Regions from separate parts of the Homo sapiens genome. Here all the other regions are linked to region 2. The links come from fine-mapping of genetic effects on gene expression. A gene starts in region 2. Each other region holds a variant in brackets. All regions are shown on one strand. Distances are between the middles of the regions. Region 1 overlaps TRPM3 (transient receptor potential cation channel subfamily M member 3). Region 2 holds the start of TRPM3 (transient receptor potential cation channel subfamily M member 3). Region 3 overlaps TRPM3 (transient receptor potential cation channel subfamily M member 3).

Region 1 (2,764 bases), 220 kb before region 2:
CTGTGCAATGATCAAATGAGAATAATTGGGATATTCATCACCTCAAACATTTATCATTTCTTTGTGTTGAGAACATTCCAGATTTTTTCTTTTAGCTATTTTGAAATATACAATAAATTCTTGTTAACTGTAGTTGCCCCACTCTGCTACAGAAGACTAGAACTTATTCCTTCTATCTAACTGTATTTTTGTACCAATTAACCAACCTCTATCTCTCCCTCCGTGCTCCCCTTCCCAGCCTCTGGTAACCACTATTTTACTCACTGTCTCCATGAGATCAATTTTTTATTATTCAGCCGTAAAAAAGAATGAGATCCTGTCATTTGCAGCAACATGAGTGGAACTGGAGGACTTTAAGTGAAATAAGCCAAGCACAGAAAGAGCAATATTGTACATTCTTACTCATATGATCATACTTTTCGGTAACTGTGAAAACTGAGATGTATAAGGGTAGCGAATATCAGCGGTGGAATTAGATCTCAATTTTCAATTTCCCAACAATTCTGTTTGGAGGTTCTTTTATTACATCAAACAGTTGTAACAGCCCGCAAGGTCTAGGCTGAGTTTTGAAGAGAAAATTGTTTTCTCAGAGGCAAATTTCTAGAAAACTCATAAAGTCTATAGTAACTCTCTCCAACTGGGAGAAGAAACTGATGGCATCTAGTGGAGGGAACACTCAGAGTATGCTAAAGGCTTGAAAGATTAAAGAAACAATGGCTTCTAAATTATGCTGATAACCTATTAGTTGGTGCAAAAATAATTACTTTTGCACCAACCTAATAGAAGAAATTCTCTTTATTGTTGTAATAGCGCATTGGCCATTAATAGCATTTGTGGTGAAGTTCAAGAAGGGTCAGACTGGTAAATTATAGCAAGGCTCACGTTGTGTAGGGAGTTGTTATTAAACAACAGATAATTAACAGCTCAAGACCAACTAAAGCATTAACTCCAATTTCTGGAGCTTGCCTAGCTCTGCAGATCCTCTTGCTTGAATAACATCCCCGACCAGTGATACAATAAATGACTCATTAGGACGGTCTTTATGTTGGTTTTGCAGGCACCTACATTCTCACTAAGCAGCTCACTCACAATAAATTGTTTTTTTTTTTTGGTGGCTGGGGGACGGAGTCTGGCTCTGTCGCCCAGGCTGGAGTGCAGTGGCGCGATCTCGGCTCACTGCAAGCTCCGCCTCCCGGGTTCACGCCATTCTCCTGCCTCAGCCTCCTGAGTAGCTGGGACTACAGGCGCCCGCCACTACGCCCGGCTAATTTTTTGTATTTTTAGTAGAGATGGGGTTTCACCGTGTTAGCCAGGATGGTCTCGATCTCCTGACCTCGTGATCCACCCACCTCAGCCTCCCAAAGTGCTGAGATTACAGGCGTGAGCCACCGCGCCCGGCCACAATAAATT[T/G]AAAAGTAAATGTTTTTGAAAAATTTATTGGTTTCCGGCCGGGCACGGTGGCTCATGCCTGTAATCCCAGCACTTTGGGAGGCCAAGGCGGGCGGATCACGAGGCCAGGAGTTCAAGACCAACCTGGCCAACATAATGAAACCCCGTCTCTACTAAAAATACAAAAATTAGCCAGGCATGTTTGTGCGTGCCTGTAGTCCCAGTTACTCCCGAGGCTGAGGCAGGAGAATCTCTTGAACCCGGGAGGTAGAGGTTGCACTGAGCTGAGATCGTGCCATTGCACTCCAGTTTGGGCAAAAGAGTGAGACTTCATCTCAAAAAAAAAAAAAAAAAAAGAAAAGAAAAGAAAAGAAAAGAAAGAAAAAATTTACTGGTTTCGTTCTACTTCTGCAAATTTAAAAGCAGCCTGAAGATAGCAGCTGCTGCTGATAAAACGTGGGCTGAACTAGTCTTTTGAACCTGAACCCTTTCTGGGAATGAGGGTGGTTCAAATGCAACCTTTTTGGGAAACCTTTGCTTAATTGGTAAGTTTGTTACCAATATGAAGCTTGGACAACAGAAATCATACACTATCCATAGGAGACAATGAGTGAAAGGAACTGAAGCCAAGGCCAGTGCCTGCATAAAGTGTTTGGAGAATCTGAAATTTATGTTCCTAGAGAAAGAAGGAGGACATGAAAGCCTGGGAGATATCTTTGGAACCAAAATGGAAAACCAATAGGGTAAACCGAAATTTAGAGGGAAAGAGAGATTTCAGTTTATAGAGTAATACAGTTATAAACTACACTCACTGATTGTACACTTGTCACCACAGCTTTGTTGTAGCCTTAAAAGATGACTTGTTATTCCTGGAAGTGATCTTACTGTTACTGTTTATTTTATTAAAACAAGGTCTTTCTGGAAAACCTGATCATATCGTTCAGCTGCTCCCCATTGCCTAAGAGTTTGTGAACAAACTTCTTATGGCATTCTGAACCCTTTTCTATCTCTTTTCCTTACTCATCTCTCATTACGTCCTTCCTTCACATCTTACACTTGAGCTACAGGACCACTTGCAAGTCTCCAAACGTTGTGTCATAACGGTTTGTGTTGTTTTTTCTTGTGCTGCTTCCTTTGCCTAAATTGCTCTTTTTGTTCCTTCCCTTGACCCCTTATGAATCTGCTGTCTTGCAAAACTTTTAATTGATGAAACTATTCCTAACCTACGCCTCAGGGAGAACTGACCATTCACTCATTTGTGCCCCAATGCATCCCACAGATGCTTAGATCATAGTAAGGATTCTATCTTAAGGCATTTGCTTGTTTGAGAGTTGGTCTCAAATAGACTGTGAACAACACTGGGTTAGGAACCCTC
Region 2 (2,764 bases):
AAGCAAGCCATCGCCATGACAACCATATGATGGGAGTTTGAACAGCACTTGGGGCAGCCTTTGTTGAAAGTTAATACCAGTTGGTGTTTAACAAGAAAAGGAAAACTCAGGCAAGGGGTAATACTCTGTTGTGAGGCACCACTTAGCTGTATGGAACTAACTGTCCCCATCAAATCTTACCTAACCAGAACACATCCTCAGAACAAAATTCTCCAAGTGTAACGTATTCAGGGCTAATTCATTAATTCTCCATTGTAGCCCACTGGACTCAATGCTCTGTGGTCACTAAATCAAAAGAGCATACATACTCAGGAAAAGAGAATTAAGAACTTTGCCTTTTTTAACTTCGAATGGATATAGAACATCAGAGATATTTATTTTTCCCTATTAAGTATTACCACCTTCTATTTACTGGGCAAAAATGCTTGTTTCCTGCACCTTTAAATCTAATTTGTGTTTTCCCCCCTACAAGAAAGATCATGAAGGTGGATTAGTACAGAGTTGTATGGACTTTTTCAGTATCTTTAATGCATTTGCTTCTGGAAAGAGAAGCGCTGCAGACACACGGTGGCAATTCCTGCTCAGGTGTAGTGCCATTCTTTTGTGTGACTCACAGCTAGAGAGAGAGCTGACATTCAATATATGTTTAACAATACTTTCCCACTACTGATTCCACTCAGGAGACTCACATTTTTATGCCTTTTCTAAAAACAAGGACACAAAAAAAGTCACTGTCTGAGGAGGCTCATTCTTTGTTCATCTTCACCTGACTGGCCACCTAACTACACAAAGCTTTTAAACTAATGAGGAGAATCCTTTGTTCTCTCTGGTTCCATTTAAAGGGAAAGTGGGTCGAAGGGCTTCCCCAGGGAGAGAGAAAGAAAAGCCCAGGAGCCAAACACAAGGGAGTAAGAGATTTCACTCCCACTACTATTCCCACCCTCCCAAAGAAGTTAATTAATTCTGTTTTAGGAATGGTTAAAAGGGGTGGGGGAGCACCAGGTAGCCCATTCTCTGAGACCAAAATCTCCTTCTCGAGTGTGGTTCGCACCAGCCTCTTGTCTCTGACACCACGGGGTGTGGGTGGGGGGCGTGGGGGGAGGGCAGGAGTACTGAGAACCTCTCTCCAGCCACGGACCACAGAGCCAGTACTGCATGCATTTAGGCTCCCCCAAAGGTGCGTCCCAGCCCAAGTCCCCAAGTTGGGTATTTAAATCTAAAAAGCACAATTAGCGCCATTCAAAGCTGCAAGTTACAGTACCTTCAGAAGTCTGACAGATGGAAGAAAGGCTGCGTGGCACAGCTTCCGGATGGTCCAGTTTAGGGGTCGAGGAGCATCAGCCTGATTCATGACCCCTTCCAAATTCCACCAGGAAAACAAGAAACTGAAAACCTGAGCAATGCCTAGAAAATAAACGGTCCCCCACGGCTCTGGCATCCCATGGTCATCTCCACACCTGCAAATTCCATTAGGGCAGAGGCTTCCTGGAACTTGGAAGACTAGTCAAGTAGCCTTGCCTGAGCCCCTGAACCTTCTTAAAACAGCCACCTCCCCTCTCTCTGCAGCCGTGCTCATGCATACCAAATGTGGCTGAATGGAGGCACACTGCCTGCTGCTTCGGGGAGGGGATGCACGATTTTGAAGAAGAGGGACAGCCTGCACAAAACAGCCTGTGGTCGGAGTCAAAGCAGCCTGCTCCAGAATGCGCGCTCCCTCTCCCGCTCTCCTCCCAGTAAACGCAGGTCAGGCGTTGGGGGGGAACCGGGGCCATTGCTTTGCTAGCTTGGTTTGGGGGGGAGCCAGGAGGATCGCAAAAGGGAACAAAAATGAAGCCAGAACGGGAAACTTGCACTTTCTTGCACAAAGCATCTTTGAGGGACTGAGAACTGGTACGGGGGGAGGGGTGAGGACACAGGGAGAGAAGGGGTGCCTCCGAATGATGAGATAAATGCTTCCCTTTTGATTTATGTGACATAATAAAGTGAGGCTATCATCAAATACATCTATAGTAAAAGAGATCTGTGTCGTGTTCTGAGGTTTTTATTAACCGTGATTGACAGTCTTCATCCTGATAATCGGTTGCATAGATGACAGACACTGAGACAGAAGCAAACTCAAACACACTGGGTTGTTCCTTTCATACAAAGCAGTTTAAACTCATGGGCATTTGGCTCACCTTTTAGAGATGGCAGTTTTTAAATGGGGGTTATCTCCTGGAAAGCCACTTGATACCGCTTCTCTGCAACACAAGTTTAACCCATAAAGTGCCACATGGGATGCTGTCTATAAAGAATGGATTTTCCTCAAGTGGGGTGTCCACCCCCATCATTTTCTAAGGAGGCTGTATGAAATAGTTGCTGAGTTGGAATGTATAGTCTTTAGGACTCCTGTGGTGAGAGAGAGAATTAAAGGACAGTTTTTCAATTTGAAGGTAGAAATTGGATAATTTCACATAGTAAGTTGGGACGGTGAGATGAGAAGGGAGTTCCTGACACAACCCCCCTTCGGCTCCCATGTACCCCCAGGCATCGGACCTCAGTGGGAGCAGTTGACCTGACAACTCCTATGGGGAGAATCCCCACATCCTTGGAGCATCGCCATCTTATTTATTTTTTCCTCTGTGACCATGCTGATTTTCCATTTCTAATTAACTTGAAGAGATTGGTAAATCCCAGCTCCATGACTATTATGCAGTCAGAGCTGAACTGGGAGTGGTGCAAGCAGATGTGATACACTGCTGTAATTCAGAACCGGGACAACACA
Region 3 (2,764 bases), 48 kb before region 2:
GGCTATCTACATGAGACTACAATCTTGACAATGAAATGAATAATATTAAACTGCCCAGAAAATCAAGAAATTTACAACAGGGAATTGTAATCCACATCCCACATCCTTTGCTAAAGATTCCTAATTATGCAAGACCAAATTAGTGCATTCTAGCAATCTTTGTCCACTGACTTGGTAGTAGAGTGATTAGAGATATGGAACAGAAAGAGAATTGACTTTAGTGCCAAACAGAGCTGGGTTTGAATCCAACTCTGCCACTTAGTAAATATAGGGTGCTGAGAGATTCATTTAACACTCCTGAACCTGCAATGTAAGTGGAGATACTAATAACCGCCTGTGACATGAGGATGCAGGTGGAGCCTCTAGAACAGGATGTGGTTCACATAGAGGGAATCAATACACTTCAGGTCTTTCTCTCTCTCCTTTACTCCTTCAAGGAGACATCACAGAAGTCCTCTTAGTGCCAGGAAAGTAAAAAAGAAATGGGTAAGAGGAACAAGTAGGAAATGGGATTCAGATGTTTTTGGTACTGGGTCTCTTGATTAGGTATTGGGTGGTAGAACTCATAGGCCCAGACCTGTAAGAGATATTTTCAGAGAGGAGCTAATTGAAACCAAAGTCATAAAACATATGTCCATCTGATTTCTTTATATAGGAAAGCCCAAACATTTCAGATCTAGTTTCCAGGAGTTTATGGAACACCTTCATTGATGGCAAATTCTACATTTTTGAGATTTCTCTATTTGTCATTACAGTTGGTCAGCATCAAGGCCACAGTTTGCTTTTAGGGTGGTCATGAATTAATTTTTTTAAGTTAAGATAGTTAAACCTATCATTATTTCTACAAAGCATTTTGTCTTAGATTTGCCTATTTATATTTCCCTGTGAGCATGTCTTTCCATTCATCTCTTCGATAGTTAACACTTATTAAGCACTTACCATGTGCCAGATCTCCCATTTAAATCACCTAGTAAATACAATATTAACTCACTTAATCCTCCCAATAACCCAAGAGGCAGGTACCATTACTGCCCCATTCCATAGACAGGAAAATGCAGGATAGATGGATTCAGTTGTGGGTCCAATATCACACAGTTCTTGGGTTGCAGAATCAAGAGCTGGACCCAACCCGTCTGACTCCAGAGCTTGTGCAGTAATAGTGCCTAAAATAAGGCACAATATCATGCATTGTTGAAGGCCGAAAGAGTGAGGGTCGTAATCAACTCAGTATACCACTGGAGGCTATGTGAGTAAACAGCAAACTGCTCTCACGAAAGCAGGATGTTGGAAAACTGACAAACTGCATCTGCTGCCCACAAGGAATGCTGAGGGCAGTCACAACCAAGGCACAAGTGTTTCTTGTGATTAGACACATCTGAAGCCTGTTAGCAATAATGTGAACTTGTGATCAATTAAGCAGCTGACCAGTCATTACCTCCTCCTCCCTACTCTTTCTACCCAGTAAAAAAGAAGGGCTGAAGAAGCTCGAGGTGGCTGCCTTTGCTCACTAGAAGCAGGGAGCCATCTTCCCCGGCCCCTTCCTTTAAAACAGTTTCCTTTGTCTTAAGTTTTCATTTCT[G/A]TGTTCATTCCCCTTTGTTCAGTCTCATAACGACAGTCTCAAGTAGTAACAGTAGTAACTGTCGTAGTGATGGTCTCAAGTAGTAATTGTGGCAGTCAGACATAGTGCATGAAAACAAAAATAATACTAAAACTTCGAACAGAAGACTATAAAAGCAGAAATCAAGTCATAAAGATGAGAATGAACGGGAGGAGGAGAGGTGAGACTTGGAAAAACAGGCTTAATGCAAGACCCTAAATTTGAGCCAAAGTCTTACTTTTGAACTTCTTGGCTATCAAGGCCAAAAGGAAAGTAGGACATGTGACGGTTCAAACTACATAGTAAAAGGAAGACCAGTAGTCTCAAAGAAAAACATATTGTATCCTTCTTAGCCCTTTATTTAATTTTCCAGTTCTGAGCTTGAGAAAGTGTAGAAGTCTCATCAGTGATTAGTTCCTGACAACTATCTAATTACTTTAATTTTGCTGGCCAGAGATGGAGCTTCAGCTACTGCTGATGTTCCAAAATGCCCATTGATATTTTCTTGAGTAAGAAAAGCAAGCTACAATATTCCTCCCTGTTCCATTCCATAGATTATCAATAAAAAAAAAACCCAATTTATTTAGAAAATGTTATTTCTTGCATTGCGTAATATTAAAGCACAGAGCTTTGCTTTTCAAGCTGGCAGCTTATATATGACAGGAACGCCATGATGCACAAATTAATTATTTAATTAAAAAAAACAGAAAAATATTGCTGAGATAATGTCAAGAAAAGAATGCTGAATTTTACAGTGGTACAAAGGCATTTATGATTATCTTACTTTTATTTCCCTGGGTAGTTATTTAAAAAGCTGGAAAAGCACTAATCTAAGGAAAAGGATATACTTCTATCATATAAAATTATTCAAATTTCAACTTTCATTGCTGGATTTTTTTCTGTATAAAGAATACATCTTTTGATTCTATTAAATTGGAGCTTTTCAGTCATAATAAGTAACTTCAAGAGTTACAACACGCATTTTTCTCTGACTAAAAGAGGCTAGCGGAACCATGATTATTGTTAACAATATAATTCACCAGCCCGCAATTAATTCTATTTTAGTAACTACCAGAACAGGTAAGGCATATATGGTTATCTCTTATTTAAATTATTGTCCAAATATTTTACTATTTTCCGTGCATAAGGCAAGCAGTCTGTGCAGCT

Evidence for each region. PIP is the estimated chance that this variant, and not a neighbour inherited with it, causes the effect.
Region 1: its variant is the best candidate, but not a certain one, in a credible set for the expression of TRPM3 in subcutaneous fat (GTEx, PIP 0.52).
Region 3: its variant is the best candidate, but not a certain one, in a credible set for the expression of TRPM3 in cerebral cortex (GTEx, PIP 0.54).

Annotation. Positions count from the first base shown.
Region 1 is chr9:70,897,022-70,899,785 of GRCh38, forward strand. All of the region lies in intron 1 of TRPM3 (transient receptor potential cation channel subfamily M member 3), which reads right to left. Among named protein-coding and RNA genes, the nearest start is that of MIR204, 88 kb to the left of the region's middle. The variant T/G (reference allele first, on the strand shown) is at 1,411.
Region 2 is chr9:71,119,917-71,122,680 of GRCh38, forward strand. It overlaps TRPM3 (transient receptor potential cation channel subfamily M member 3), which reads right to left and starts at 1,705. Exons shown (of 26, transcript NM_001366145.2): 1 at 1,262-1,705. The coding sequence starts at 1,438. RefSeq lists an enhancer at 513-1,350.
Region 3 is chr9:71,071,483-71,074,246 of GRCh38, forward strand. All of the region lies in intron 1 of TRPM3 (transient receptor potential cation channel subfamily M member 3), which reads right to left. Among named protein-coding and RNA genes, the nearest start is that of TRPM3, 49 kb to the right of the region's middle. The variant G/A (reference allele first, on the strand shown) is at 1,580.